2 linked regions of the Homo sapiens genome follow. The protein of the gene in region 1 purifies or fractionates together with the protein of each later gene. This does not show direct contact. Each region holds a gene or a part of one and is shown in the gene's direction. Other genes may lie near its edges.

What was found. The genes of interacting proteins can lie anywhere in the genome.
Region 2: the proteins of UACA (region 1) and USP48 purify together in Homo sapiens (affinity purification with mass spectrometry; 2 studies listed by BioGRID, with this or other methods). This does not show direct contact.

Annotation. Positions count from the first base shown.
Region 1 is NC_000015.10:70,760,551-70,767,938, reverse strand, and holds the start of UACA (uveal autoantigen with coiled-coil domains and ankyrin repeats), read left to right. Parts: upstream 1-4,380; 5' UTR 4,381-4,531; coding exon 4,532-4,609; intron 4,610-7,388. UniProt on the Homo sapiens protein: Regulates APAF1 expression and plays an important role in the regulation of stress-induced apoptosis. Promotes apoptosis by regulating three pathways, apoptosome up-regulation, LGALS3/galectin-3 down-regulation and NF-kappa-B inactivation.
Region 2 is NC_000001.11:21,780,150-21,788,017, reverse strand, and holds the start of USP48 (ubiquitin carboxyl-terminal hydrolase 48), read left to right. Parts: upstream 1-4,868; 5' UTR 4,869-5,060; coding exon 5,061-5,194; intron 5,195-7,868.

The DNA of each region.
Region 1 (7,388 bases):
AGAGGGTGTGAGAACTGCCTCAGGTCTCTCATTTCCTGGGCTGCCTATGATTTCTGGGTAGAAGTGCCTTTCCTCATGACTCTGTGGCCACACGTGGTTCTGCCAGCCATTTGCTTTGGCATCTGAGAGAATGACTGATGTCATGGGCCCCTTCATGAAATTATTCACTGGCTTTGTTCACTGGGTCCCCAGGGCTACTCGGAGCAGCAAGAAGTTCTGAAAATGAAGAGGGAAGTCATTGGATATAGAATTCATAACTAAAGCTTGTCTGGAAGGAGATCTTTATGTTTGAAAAGGACTCATTTTATGTGCAAATTTTAGACTTTGTATGTCAATTCTTTTTTTTTTTTTGAGATGAAGTCTTGCTCTATCACCCAGGCTGGAGTGCAGTGGCGTTATTCTGGCTCGCTGCAACCTCTGCCTCCTGGGTTCAAGCGATTCTCCTGCCTCAGCCTCCCCAGTAGCTGGGATTACAGGCTTCCACCACCACGCCCAGCTAATTTTTGTATTTTAGTAGAGATGGGGTTTCACCATGTTCACCAGGCTGGTCTCAAACTCCTGACCTCAAGTGATCTGTCCACTTTGGCCTCCCAAAGTCCTGGAATTACAGTTGTGAGCCACCATGCCCGGCCTGTGTGTGGATTCTTTTTTTTATTGTTGTTGTTTTTGTTTTTGTTTTTTGTTTTTTTTTTTTTTTTTGAGATGGAGTCTTGCTCTGTCGCTCAGGCCGGAGTGCAGTGGCGCCATCTCGGCTCACTGCAAGCTCCACCTCCCAGGTTCACGCCATTCTCCTGCCTCAGCCTCCAGAGTAGCTGGGACTACAGGTGCCTGCCACCACGCCTGGCTAATTTTTTGTATTTTTAGTGGAGACGGGGTTTCACCATATTAGCCAGGATTGTCTCGATCTCCTGACCCCGTGATCCACCCGCCTCGGCCTTCCAAAGTGCTGGGATTACAGGTGTGAGCCACTGTGCCCGGCCCTCTGTGTGGATTCTTTATTCTTCTTCTGAGAAATCATATTTGTCATCGTTTTTGCCGTTATCATCATCTGAGTTATCAGTGAGCATCTGTCGACTGTGTTCTCTTCCCTGTTCTGGCAGGTCCCCTGGGTATCCTCTGCCCATCTGGTATTACTTCTCACCTGTTGGTATTCATTGAATGGATACTCAACCTTGGATAGCCTCCCTTCAGGCAAACTTATCTGTTGATCTTTTCCTTCCCTAAATACCATCTGCAATCTTACTACACGATTCAGTAAGCGATTGTCCAGTTAAACTGTATGTGTTAGCATACAGCTTACACATTTGTTATCTAATCCAGAACACAAGTTCCTTGACAGCAGGGATCAAAATAGGGGTGGTAAGCAGATCAACTTGCTCCATTTGTATTATTTGAGATTACCATGTGTATATATAATCTAGTAAAGTAATTTTAAAAAATGCATTACCCTTCCTGGTATATATTGTAAATAAATAAATATTGGAAAAAAAAAAGAAGTAAAACAAAAAAATATTTTATATAGGCTCAGTGTGATAACAAACAAAAGGTCATCTAGGTTTGATAAGTGCCCTTTGCTCTGAAGGGAAGATAAAAATAAATAATAGTGATAAGAGTTAACAAAATAAAACCCAACCTGTCTGGTTGAATGCTAATAATAGTGACTTTACTTCATATAGGCAGCTTCCAGATCAATGTAAAAAAGCTTTACTGAATATTCAGACCAGTGCTATTTACTTAGCTGCTCTCAAATGGGAATAAGCAGACATCAGCTATCAAGTTTCTAGGCTGGAAAAATCCATAAAGGCCACTGGACACAGACACCATGGGGACATCATCCAGACAGTTCATAAAAATAACTTGCCCAACATTTTTGGAACCTGATGCAAGCTATACTTGTGGTTCTGTCTGTTTCCTTTGCTTTATCCAGTAACAACAGAAAAGGAGGCCAGTCACCAGGACTATGATAACTTGGATGTTACAGGAGACAACCAGTACAACATAACACTGCAATTAATAACTCAAGAGCCAATTACTGAGACAGTGCTCTTGTAAGCAATTAACATTTAAGATTCAGTCAGAGGACTAGATGGTAAATGGGTGCTTATCTTAAGCCCAGAGAAAGGAGTTGATTGAGACACAAATATTTGAGCAGGACCATAGCCTCAGATCATTCCATCTGTGTTCACAATAGGGGGAATCCCAATCCTGTGTCACATAAATACATAGAACAAACAACCATAATTTGCTATAGTAGTCAATAAGAATGCATCAATTCATTCAGAAATATTTATTAAACACCTATAACATGCTAAGCATTCTAGGGAATTCAAATATATGTCAGTTATTCCCCAATTTTAAGTAAATTGAAGTCCAGTAATGAAATAAGGTTTGCTCAGCTCATATGTGTTAGTATCATATGAGAGGTATAATTGCTGTAACTATTTGGAGGATGGAGAGATCACTTCCAGTTACTTGATCAGGGAAGGTTCTATAGAGAGGAGGGCACTTGGAAGGGACATACACTTAAAAACAAACTTTTTGTTAAAGCATAACACACACATAAAAGAGAATATATTGCATACAGTACAGGCTCATTGAATTTTCACAATCTGAAAACACTAGATATGTAACCAGCACCCACAGAGAATAGTACAGTATTCCAGAAGCCCCCGACATCCCCTACCAATCACTCTTGGGGGAGTAGGATTTTCTGAGATGAATGTAGACAGACAGAAGATTATTGGGGGAGGGATCAGTATGCATAAAGATGTGGAAGTTGAAAGCCATGACCCATGTTTGGAGAATGGGCTGAAGAGTAATTCGCTTGGGGTGTTGGCTAGAGAACAGGGTCGCGTCCACGTTATACAGCTTTAAATGCAAAGAATTAGATTTTATTCGTTAGCTGCTGAAGGCTTTTGAGCAAGAGGAGTATTTTTGTAAGACTTATTGATGATGGCTGATAATTTATTGGTGATGGGACAATTAAGAGACTGAAGGTTGGGAGACTGGCTGGGAAGCTTCTGTAATAATAGTCCGGGTATGAGGTAATTTTGGCTCTGCAGTGGCAGTGAGAACAGAGTAACTGACCATACACAGACACTTTAAAGAGCCAACAAGAACTAAATGACTGGAGATCTAGAGGAAGGGGGAGGAATCAAAGAAAATTTTCTTCCAAAGATCTAATCAAGATGAAATTTAATAATATTTTTGGGTAGTTAGTTGTTATTTACTTGTTGTATAGGGTTAACACAGTCTTTGAATGCTGCCTCTCCAAGAAATTCTGAAAACTTTCTTACAGTATTTGAAGAAAACCTTGCGTTACTATAAAGAAACTCTAAAGAGAGCAACTGACCTTTCAGACAAAAAAGAGTCCTTTGTTAGTCAGAAAATGTGGACCGTTTGTCTTTTCAAATGGATGCATGCTACGATAAACGTTTTGCTGGGGGGAAAAATGACTCCAAAGAAGACTTTTGAAGATGTCACCCGAACAGCAAATTATTGGGTGCTGAGCACCTTCCTGTTTCTTCATCCTCTTAAATAATTTTTACTAACCCAGATTTCTAGGTAAGATGATTTAACTTCATCGTATACGTTTACATGTAATGTGTTTCTACAGAAAACAAAAAACCTTTTTGAAGAAAAAAGGGCGTAACTTTTTTTGACAACTTAAATCACTGGCTGTGGGAGTCATTTTTAATTGATGGCACCTCTTCTCCTCCCTCCCCGCCCCCATTCCGTCCCTTTGCTTCCAATACGGCGGATTCTTCACTCAACAAATAAACGAGCACGTAACTTGTACTGTAACTTACTATAACGTCTTTCAAGGTCTTTCTTAACTGTACGTTTTTCTGCACAATCAGCACCTTATTTCTTAGAGACTGTTTATTTCTGGAATTTTTGATGCGTGTGGTGGTTTCCAGGCACCAGGATTTGGTAGTAAAACAGGAGACTGAAAAGAAGTTGCTCCTGAAAGCTGTTCTGTGTGCAGGTAACCAAGAGTCATTTCTAAGACCAGACGGAAGGGAAGGAACTTTACTTGGTAAAGAGCGCGTGGGTGGAAAGAGGAGGGGAGTCCGGGAAGATGAGAGGTGGCAAAGGCGGGACCCCGTGCTCTCTCTAGATCTTAAGCTCCGGGTGGGCGGGCGCCGGTGGCCTGGAGCCCGGCCTGCGCGCATCTCCACGCCTCTGGCCGCCCACCTCCTCCGCCCCTTCCCGGGCTAAAGTTCCCAAACTTTTCCTCCAGCTGGGAGAGGAAGGGTGTTACTCAGTTTAAAAGGGAAGTCCCGCCCCATTCCCGCATTCCGATTGGTCGCGGTTTGCCACGCCCCCGCCAGGGCAGCGGGTCAATTGGCTACGGGAGGGGAGCCCCGCCTCAGGCCTGTCGACGTCTGCTGCCCGGGGCCCGCAGGTGGCAGGCAGGTGGGGCTGGTACAGCCCGCGCCGCCTCTGCTGCAGCCGCTGCCGTCTACTCCTTGCGCGCTGGCACTCCGCAGCCTTTAAGGTTCGCGCGGGGGCCAGGCAAGAGTTAGCCATGAAGAGCCTCAAGTCCCGCCTGAGGAGGCAGGACGTGCCCGGCCCCGCGTCGTCTGGCGCCGCCGCCGCCAGCGCGGTGAGTCCCGCGGTCCGGGCTGCGAGGCGCTCCGCTCCGGGAGCAGCGCAGCCCTCCTTTGCTGGCGAGTTCGCGCGCCGCCTTCCTCTGCTTTTCCTCTGCCAGTTCGGCTTCGGCGGCCCTGGCGACTCCTCCCTGAGGCCGGAGACTCCGTCAGCCCAGAGACCCCGGGGATCCTCCCCGCCGCCGCACCCGAGCCTCTACGGGTCTCTTCCCCACCCCTTTCTCCCAAGCCTCCGAACTTCTGGAAGAAACCTCAGTGGGGCGGTTCTGGCCCCCTCCTCCTAAATCCAAAGTTCCTCGATTGGCACCCCTACTCCGCTCTTTCCGTTGACCCCCCCTCGTCGCTCTCCTCTCCCGGCGCTCGCCCTGCTGCCCACGCCCGCTCGGCCGTGTTGGCTCCCCAGTCCCCGGGGCCGGGGCTCGCACCAGGTAGGGCAGGTGGGCAGGGCTGCGCACCCCGCGCCACCGTGCCCGGACTCCGGACCTTCCCCGGGTCTGAGACAGCGTCAAGCCCTGCCGGGCTGGTGGACGTCCCGTGCTGGCCGCTGTCGTTGTCACTGGGAAGTTTGATTCCCCAGCGAGGCAGAGGGAATCGGCTTAGTCGTAAAGACAAAACCCCACAGGGTGGTGACCCTAGAGGTGGTGAAGTTGGGAGGGGTGGTGGTGATGTGGGTTGTGTAAATCGCACCTGTGGGGCGGGATCCGTGCGGGGCTCTTTCGGTGCTGACCTGCAGCGCGGCCTCAGTGTGCGCGCCAAGGAGTAGTCGGGGCCTCTTTAGTTGGCAGGAGAACAGAAATCTTGAGAAACAGCCTGACCGCAGATGTTGTGATTTAGATAATTTGTCACGTTACAAGAATGGCGATATCATCAAAATTCTATATCATTAAAATAAGTGCCACTTACAAAGTCTTGGAAGAGTCGAACGTAAAGGAGTTGTTATGCTCCAACTGCACAGTTACCTAGTTGGGGTAATTAAAATGAACCTTTACAATTCAACGCAGATTTTACCAAATGATTATATTCTTTTTATCAGAATACTAATTAATCTGCTTCTGCTTTTTTGAGTTAATTCAGTTATGCCTTTCTCTCCACCTATATCGAGGATTATTTTACTTGGACATAAAGGAAATTGTGGAGGAACTACCTAGACTTAAATTCCTATTTCAAAAAAAGAGAGTAGATTCAGATGACGTAATTGATGTTCTTTGATAAAGCATGAAGTCGTTTTATAAGCTCATGGAAAACAGAGATTACTTTGTTTCACTTTTTTTTTTAAAAAAAGTAACTGGCAGAAATGTCATTTAGTGATATTGGAGTTCATTACAGTTAAGATTCTACTTCTGTAATGCAAGTTGTGTTTTTAGCCTTATAGAAGATACAAGTTTCTAGATTTATTAGCTTTGTTTTCCCTGGTTGTGTTTGATTTGCACTAAGGATGTAAATCCCACTTGGAGGTTTATATGCCTTAATTTTATCCAGTTTTCTAGAAATGCAGAGTATTTAGTAGGTATTATCAGCATGATAGTTTGCATTTTATACATTTGGAACATAAAGTGCATATCTCTGAGCTTAAATCTTTAGCACTCAATTGAGCGTTCTATTTTTCTCAAAATGACATAATAAAGATAAACATGATATTAACCTATTTATGTAGAAAAAGCAAACATTTCTGTTTAAATATTAGAATAAGTTCTGTACAATTTAAAAATAAAAGCGTAATGAGGAATAAAACTTAGAATGAATTCTGTAAAATTTTAAAATAAAACTGTAGTGATGAATAAAACCAAACCAAGCATTGATAGAATAAAACACATGTACAGGAGAAATAGACCCTTTCTGCTTTTCAATCTATAAACCATAATCCCAGATTTGGTCACATGTATATGTATTTATTGTATGATTGGGCCACCCTTTTTTTTTTTCTTTTTGCCTTTAAAAACAGTTATTTTTTGAATAGGTAATATAGCACATGGTTTAATATTGGAAAGGAATAAAAATATTTACAACAAAATATCGACACCGTGTTTCCCTAACCCCTGCTTCAGCCACCCTGCCCCCACTTCCTGAGGCCACTGATGATACAGTTGCTTGCATGTTCCTCCAGAGAGAGCTTAGCATATACAAGCAAATATGAATATAGTCACCCTTTATAGAAATGCTAGCACACTGTAGCTGCTGTTTCATATCTTGGACTTTTTTTTTTAAAACTGTAAATAGAGGCTCCCCATTCATATCTTTTGCTGTAATGTACAATTCTGTGATTAATATTCATATTTCAAGTGTGTGTCTGTACCTGTAGGATTAATTCCTAAAAGTGAATTGCTGGGTTAAAGGATATGTGCATTTGTAATTTTGAAGGATGTTGTCAAGTTTCCTTTCATGCATCATGGAACCAGCATATGAGAAATGTTTTCCAAGCTTTTAATAGAAGTCTGTTCAAAGTTTTTGACCTTTGCTAGCCTGATAGGTAAGAACAGTTTATCCTTTCCATTTTTCTTTTTCTGTTTTTTTTTTTTTTTTGAGACGGAGTCTCGCTCGGTCGCCAGGCTGGAGTGCAATGGGACCATCTTGGCTCATTGCAACCTCCGCCTCCCAGGTTCAAGTGATTCTCCTGCCTCAGCCTCCTGAGTAGCTGGGACTACAGGCGTGCACCACCACGCCAGGCTAATTTTTGTATTTTTAGTAGAGACAGGGTTTCACCATGTTGTCCAGGATGGTCTCAATCTCTTGACCTTGTGATCCACCCGCCTCGGCCTCCCAAAGTGCTGGGATTAC
Region 2 (7,868 bases), on another chromosome or scaffold:
ACCTCCCAGGTTCAAGCGATTCTCCTGCCTCAGCCTCCCGATAGCTGGGATTACAGACATGCGCCACCACGCCCGGCTAATTTTTTTTTGCATTTTTAGTAGAGGCAGGGTTTCTCCATGTTGGTCAGGCTGGTCTCGAACTCCTGACCTCAGGTGATCCGCCCCCCTCAGCCTCCCAAAGTGCTGGGATTACAGGTGTGAGCCACTGCACCCAGCCAGCCTTTGCCTCTTTTAAAAAGTTCTAAGTTGCTAGCCAATCAGGACAAATATAGAATGTGAGGTCCTGTTCCAGCCAATGGAAGTCAGACACAGCAGTAGGGTGGACGCTTCAGGTTATAAATGACCCTGTCCTGTTTGTTCAGTGTACTCTACTGGCAAAACTGCTGGCGAGTGTACCCTTTCTGCAGAAAGTAAAAATGGCCTTGCTGAGGATGTTAAATTTATGTTCAAGTGCTATTTGTTTTTTGTTGTTTTTTTTTTAGATGAAGTCTCGCTCTGTCGCCAGGCTGGAGTGCAGTGGCACAATCTTGGCTCCCTGCAACCGCTGCCTCCCAGGTTCAAGCGATTCTCCTGCCTCAGCCTCCTGAGTAGCTAGGACTACAGGCGTGTGCCACCATGCCCAGCTAATTTTTTGTATTTTTTGTAGAGACGGGGTTTCACCATGTTGGCCAGGATGGTCTTGATCTCTTGACCTCATGATCTGCCTGCCTCGGCCTCCCAAAGTGCTGGGATTACAGGTGTGAGCCACCGCGCCCGGCCGTAAGTGCTACTTCTTTACGGCACTGGGGAACAAGCATTTCTAACAAGATCCCCCAGGGAGTAAACAAAGTTAAAGGAGAGGTCCAAAGGACTGAACCCTAGGCCACTCAAGTTTCCAGGTTAGAGGAGAAAGAAGCTGCAAAGGACACCGGAAGGGATGGCCAGCAGTAAAGAGAAAACCAGGAGAGTGTGGCACCCTGTGATTTAAGAGAAGAAAGTGTTTCTAAGAGGAAAGAGTGAATAACTGGGTCAATTGCTGCTAACAGGTCTAGTAAAATAAATAGAGTATGAGTTTACCACTGCATTTAACAAGGTGAAGGCCATTGGCATTCTTCATACGAGCAGTTTTGGAGGTGATAGAGGCAAGAACCTGATTTGGGAGGTTTAAGGAGGAATAGGAGGAGAACTGGAGAAGAGTACAGAAAATGCTTTCCAGGAGTTTTGCTATAAAGGGAAAAAGAGAAATGGGACAGTAGCTGGAGGGGGATGTGGGAGTCAAGAGAGGGTTTGTTAAACTTCAGAGAAATTACAGCAAATTAGCACATTTGGGTTTTGTTTGTTTGTTTTTGAGACAGGGTCTCCCTCTGTCGCCCAGACTGGAGTGCAGTGGTGAGATCTCTGCTCACTGCAACCTCGACCTCCTGGGCTCAAGCAATCCCTCCACTTCAGCCTTCTGAGTAGCTGGGACTACAGGTGCCTACCACCACACCTGGCAAATTTTTGTATTTTTGTAGAGACAGGGTTTCACCATGTTGCCCAAGCTGGTCTCGAACTCCTGACCTCAGATGATCTGTCCACCTCGGCCTCCCAAAGTGCTGGATTACAGGCGTGAGCTACCGTGCCTGGCCGAAATCATCTTCTTTCTAAATCTGTTCCTTCTTCTGGTGTTGCTATCTCATTTGGTAGAAATTCTATTTAATTATCCAATTTAGAAAACTGCCATATAGTAGTGTCTTCATGGTGAATGATAGTCACAATTTCATCATGTGCTAAGTGAAGCAAGGGATGACACAGGGAGCTGTGGATACTGAGGAAAGGGGTGTGACCAGACTTGAAGGTCAAATATCAGAAAGGTGAAGATATACCGGTCAGGTCAACATCATCAAGCTGTAGCAAGTCCTCATTCTGTCCAAGGCGTTTGAACCAGAGTGACTCTATCTTGAATGGGGGCTGGGTAAAATAAGGCTGAGACCTACTGGGCTGCATTCCCAGGAGGTGAAGACATTTTTTTTGCCTGAGTTTCCCACCGTCGCCTGGGATGGAGTGCAATGCCACGATCTTGGCTCACTGTAACCTCCGCCTCCTGTTCAAGCAATTGTCCTGCCTCAGCCTCCTGAGTAGCTGGGATTACAGGTGCCCGCCACCATGCCTGGCTAATTTTTGTATTTTTAGTAGACCCAGGGTTTCACTATGTTGGCCAGGCTCATCTCGAACTCCTGACCTCGTGATCCGCCCACCTTGGCCTCCTAAAGTGCTGGGATTACAGGCATGAGCCACCATGCCTGGCCTAAGGCATTCTTAGACACAGGATGAGATAGGAGGTCTACACAAGATACAGGTCATAAAGACATTGCTGAGAAAACAGAATGCAGTAAAGAAGCTGGTTAAAACCCACCAAAACCAAGATGGCCATGAGACTGACCTCTGGTCGTCCTCACTGCTTATTATATGCTAATTATTATACGCTAATTATTATACATTAGCATGCTAAAAGACATGCCCACCAGTGCATGACAGGTTACAAATGCCATGGCAAAGTCAGGAAGTTACCCTATATGGTCTAAAAAGGGGAGGAGGCCAGGCGCGGTAGCTCACACCTGTAATCCCAGCACTTTGAGAGGCCGAGGTGGGCGGATCACCTGAAGTCCGGAGTTCGAGACCAGCCTGACCAACATAGTGAAACCCCGTCTCTACTAAAAAATACAAAAAAATTAGGCGGGCGTGGTGGCAAAAGCCTGTAATCCTAGCTACTTGGGAGGTTGAGGCAGGAGAATCGCTTGAACCCAGGAGGCGGAGGTTGCAGTGAGCCCAGACCACACCATTGCACTCCAGCCTGGGCAACAAGAGCAAAACTCCGTCTCAGGAAAAAAAAAAGTCTTCTCTGCCTCACTATACAAAATGCAAATCTCCATTATAGCACTCAACAGCTGTATATCTTCAGTGGGTACTTTGAATAAAGGTCTTCCTTTTTTTGTTTTTTTTTTTGTTGTTATTGTTGTTTTATTGTTGTTGTTATTGTTGTTTTGTTTTGTTTTTGTTTTTTTTTTGGAGACAGAGTCTCGCTCAGTCGCCCAGGCCGGAGGGCAGTGGCGCGATCTCCGCTCACTGTAAGCTCCGCCTCCTGGGTTCCCGCCCTTCTCCTGCCTCAGCCTCCAGAGTAGCTGGGACTACAGGCGCCCGCCACTACGCCCGGCTATTTTTTTTGTATTTTTAGTAGAGAGGGGGTTTCACCGTGTTAGCCAGGATGGTCTCGATCTCCTGATCTCGTGATCCGCCCGCCTTGGCCTCCCAAAGTGCTGGGATTACAGGCGTGAGCCACCGCGCCCGGCGGCAAGGTCTTCCTTTCAAGCCATAACTCTCACCTGTCCCTGTCTCAGAAATTGTGGCCCTCTCACGCCAAGCTTTTCTCTTCTGTGCCTTTGCTCCTTGTGGTTTCTTTTTTTCTGGAATGGTGTCTTTCTTCTATCCTGGATAAGTCCAACTCACCCGTTAAAAGCGGGCTTCGGAATTACTTCTGGGAAGCCTTTTCTCAAGTACCCCGAAGCCTCCCAAGACTGGGATGGGGATCTTTGTATTTCTACCGCTCACTCCCTAACCCACTTCCAAGGGCAGGGACCACATCTTACTTTCTTCTGCCTTCAGCGAATTTTTTTGTTTTTTTTGAGACGGAGTTTTACTCTTGTTGCCCAGGCTGGAGTGCAATGGCGTTATCTCGGCTAACCACAACCTCCGCCTCCCGGGTTCAAGCGATTCTCCTGCCTCTGCCTCCCGACTAGCTGGGATTACAGGCATGCGCGACCGCGCCTTGCTAATTTTGTATTTTTAGTAGAGACGGGGTTTCTCCATTTTGGTCAGGCTGGCCTCGAACTCCTGACCTCAGGTGATCCGCCCACCTCGGCCTCCCAAAGTGCTGGGATTGGATCCTTGAGCCACGGTGCTCGGCCCAGTGAATGTTTATCTAAAGAATTCAGCCTAAGGTTTTCCAGCAGGCAAGCAGCTGAGTCAGAAGTTAGCGCTTAGATTCTGGCAGAGCTCTAATTCAAATTCAAAATTCTTAAATATCCTCACTTTAGTAGAGTTCTTTACAGTTTGCAAAACAATTCTCATAAAGCTACTCTTTATGTCCTGGGGCAGGAGTCGCAGAAAGGAAATGTTTTAAACCAGGAGCTAGAGAGGAACTAGAAAATCCTGGCATAGAGGTAACAGTCTTGAGAAGGGAGCCAACAGCAAACATGACCTTGCGCACCAGAGAAACTCCACCCTGGCACCTCGGACCCCCGCCCGCACAGTCTGCGGCGCACTGAGCACTCCCACCTCGAAGACTACAAATCCCAGCATGCCTCACAGTCAGTGGCAGGACGCAGGGCATGCCGGGACACGTAGTCCCACCCTAGCACGGGAAAAGGCCGGAAGGTCCCATGACGTCAGGAGGGCTCGGGAAAGGGGTTCGGAACCGGTCTAGGCTCAAGTTAAATCTCCCTCTAAAGAGCCAACACTGGTTTCTTTGGCGACTCGGTTTCTACTCTAAACAGGTCCCGCTCCACAGTCTGGGCGGGCCTGTGTGTGCGTTGAGTAGCCTCTAGCGTGAAAACTTCATGGTTAAAAGGGAAGTACCGGAGGCAAGAAATAGCTTTCGAGGCACTGGTTTGTTAGAGTAGTGGTACGTAGTGCGCCGCCCTGAACGGGGGCTGAGACGCTGCTTTTCCAGAAGTGCCAGTGAGGACGTGGCAAGACCGCCTCGGACGTACGCTTCCTCTACCTCAGCCCGTCGGGTTAGGGGCGCGGGAGGCGCAGAGGCTGCTGGGAACGCGCATGCGCTCAGCGCGGCGGGGAGTCCACCTTTAACGTCCGCGGGCGCGGGGTGTGTCGGGTGTCGACGGCGGCGCTTTGCGGCCGGTCGTGCGGGTCGGGCGCGGGCGGGCGCGGCGGCAGTGGCGCGCACAGGTGATTGACTGGCCAGCTGCCTGAAGGAGCGCCAGGTCCTCCTTGCTGGCAGGTGGCGAAGCCCATTGGGGCGGCGGTGCAGACCGCGGCGGCGGCTGCGGCGGTCTGGCTCGGGAGGCGTTCCTGGGGCCAAGGCCATGGCCCCGCGGCTGCAGCTGGAGAAGGCGGCCTGGCGCTGGGCGGAGACGGTGCGGCCCGAGGAGGTGTCGCAGGAGCACATCGAGACCGCTTACCGCATCTGGCTGGAGCCCTGCATTCGCGGCGTGTGCAGGTGAGGCCCGCGCACCGCGCCTCGCGGGCTCCTCGCGCCGGACCTTGGAAAGCCCGGGCGGGGTAGGGGAAAGGAAGACGGCAGCCCTTTGCGTGCATTTGGGAGGCGCGGAGCCGAGCGAGGTGGAGTTTCCCCCTTTGCGCCGTCTGCGCGACCTGGGAAACGCAGGCTTCCCGGGCTGTGCGCGGAGGTGATGCTGGCCAAAGCACTTTAGGAAGGTTTGGGTTCCCATCCAGAAGATGGCGGTGGAGATGAAGGCAGGAGCTGAGAGCTTAGCAAGCGTTGATGGTTGGGGTATCTTGGCCACAGCACGGCTCTTTCGTTTGTAAAAAGGAACTTTTTGGAAGTGAGCTTCATCACAGTGTATCTTGTTGGTGTTGACACCGAAGGCCTGATCATCTTAGTATTATTTTTGTAGAGGGCAGCTTTAGAAAAAACTGTGGTCAGCCTACGTCATCGATACCCTGCACCCCCGTTGGCCTTCCCTCACTCGTTAATCTAGTATTTTTTTTAAGCCTTTCTTTGGTCGTTCTGGTTCGACACCAGTTTACCGAGTACCAAGTTTAAGCTGTGATAGTGCTGTCCTTCACGTCTGCGCCGCCCTTGAACTTTACCTTTCCTTAACCCCCTCATATAGATTGAATCCTTAGGCTTTGCTCCCGTTTATTCCCTTTTTTCCACCTTGTAACGCGGGAACTATAGTTTTTGTTTCAGAATGTTGTTGAAATTGACTTGGCCAAGCCGGGCATGCTCAGTAGCCGTCTTTCGGCAGGCATTTAGGAAATGCTTTCTGGAGTTTTTACATTCCGCTGGGGGATCCGGAAGGAATGGAAGTCATGGTCTCTGGCTTTGGAGCTTAAAGTCTAGTATGAGAAGTGAAATAAGTTAGGGAGTTTCTATAAAGCAAACGAATAAGTCCAAGCTCTGGGCGTCTGTCTCACAAGGAGGGTAAATCTGACTTTAACAGTAAGTTCTGGAATGTTTGAAGTCTGTGTATAATAGAAATAATCAAGCTTCAGTCAGTTTCTCAACGTAATTAGTTTCCAGACTAACCAAATAATGTAAACTACTAATAGTTCTGGTGGTTTTTGAGACAGGGTCTCACTCTGTCACACAGGCTGGAGTGCAGTGTCACGAGCTCGGCTCACTGCAACCTCCGTTTCCCAGGCTCAAGCGATCCTCCCACCTCGGCCTCCGGAGTAGCTGGGATTAGAGGCACGGGCCACCACGCCCGACTCAGTTTTGTATTTTTAGTGGAGACGGGTTTTCGCCATGTTGGCCAGGCTGGTCTCGAGCTCTGGGCTCAAGCGATCTGCCCACCTCTTCTGGGATTACAGGCGTGAGCCACCATGCTGGGCCAATTTCTGATATTTATTTATTTATTGAGACGGTGTTTCGCTCTTATTGCCCAGGCTAGAGTGCAATGGCGTGATCTCGGCTCACTGCAACCTCTGCCTCCTTGGTTCAAGCGATTCTCCTGCCTCAGCCTCCTGAATAGCTGGGATTACAGGCATGCACCATCATGCCCGGCTAATTTTTTTTTATTATTTTTATTTTTTGTATTTTTAGTAGAGACAGGGTTTCTCCATGTTGGTCAGGCTGGTCTCGAACTCCTGACCTCAGATAATTTGACCGCCTTGGCCTCCCAAAGTGCTGGCATTACAGGCGTGAGCCACCGCCCGCCAGGCCGATACTTTTTTTTTTTTCGAGACAGCGTCGTGAGACGCTGGATAAATTTAAAAAAATAAATTTTTAAAATAAAAATTTTAAAAGAAAAAAGAATAGGCCGGGTGCGGTGGCTCATGCCTGTAATCCCAGCACTTTGGGAGGCCGAGATGGGCGGATCACGAGGTCAGGAGTTCGAGACCAGCCTGGCCAGCATGGTGAAACCCCGTCTCTACTAAAAATACAAAAATTAGCCGGGGGTGGTGGCGGGCGCCTGTAATCCCAGCTACTGGGGTGGCTGAGGCAGGAGAACCCTGGAACCCGGGAGGTGGAGGTTGCGGTGAGCCGAGATCACGCCACTGCACTCCAGCTTGGGCAACAGGGCGAGACTCAGTCTCAAAAAAAAAAAAAAAAAAAAAATTATCTTATCTTGGCTCTGTATGCCCTGTATGTTCCGCCTCTAAATTTCCCTATTCTGGACATTTCATATAAATGGAATCCTAAAATACGTGGACTTTTGTGACTGATTTCCTTTACTTATGTATTTAAGGGTCATCCATGTTGTAGCATGTTTCAGCACTTCATTTCATTAAAAAAATACCTGGGAAATACATATGACAGTGTTTACCATTTTAAAGTGCACAATTCGGTGGGTTTCAGTACCTTTATAGTGTTGTACAACCATCACCACTGTCTGGTTCCAGAACTTTTCATTATCCTAAAAGGAAACTGAGCATCTGTTAGTCACTTCCCATTTTCCCCCCTCGCCCAGCCCCTGGCAACTGCTAATCTACTTTCTGTCTCTGGATTTCTCTATTAATATTTCATAGCAATGGAATTATACAGTACGTGGCCATTTGTGTCTGGTTTCACTTAACGTAATGTTTCCAAGGGTTATCCCTGCTGCGCATGTGTCACTACTTTATTCCTTACGGCTGAGTAGTATTCCATTTTATGGATAATACCACATTTTATATATCTATTCATCAGTTGAGGGACATTTTGATTA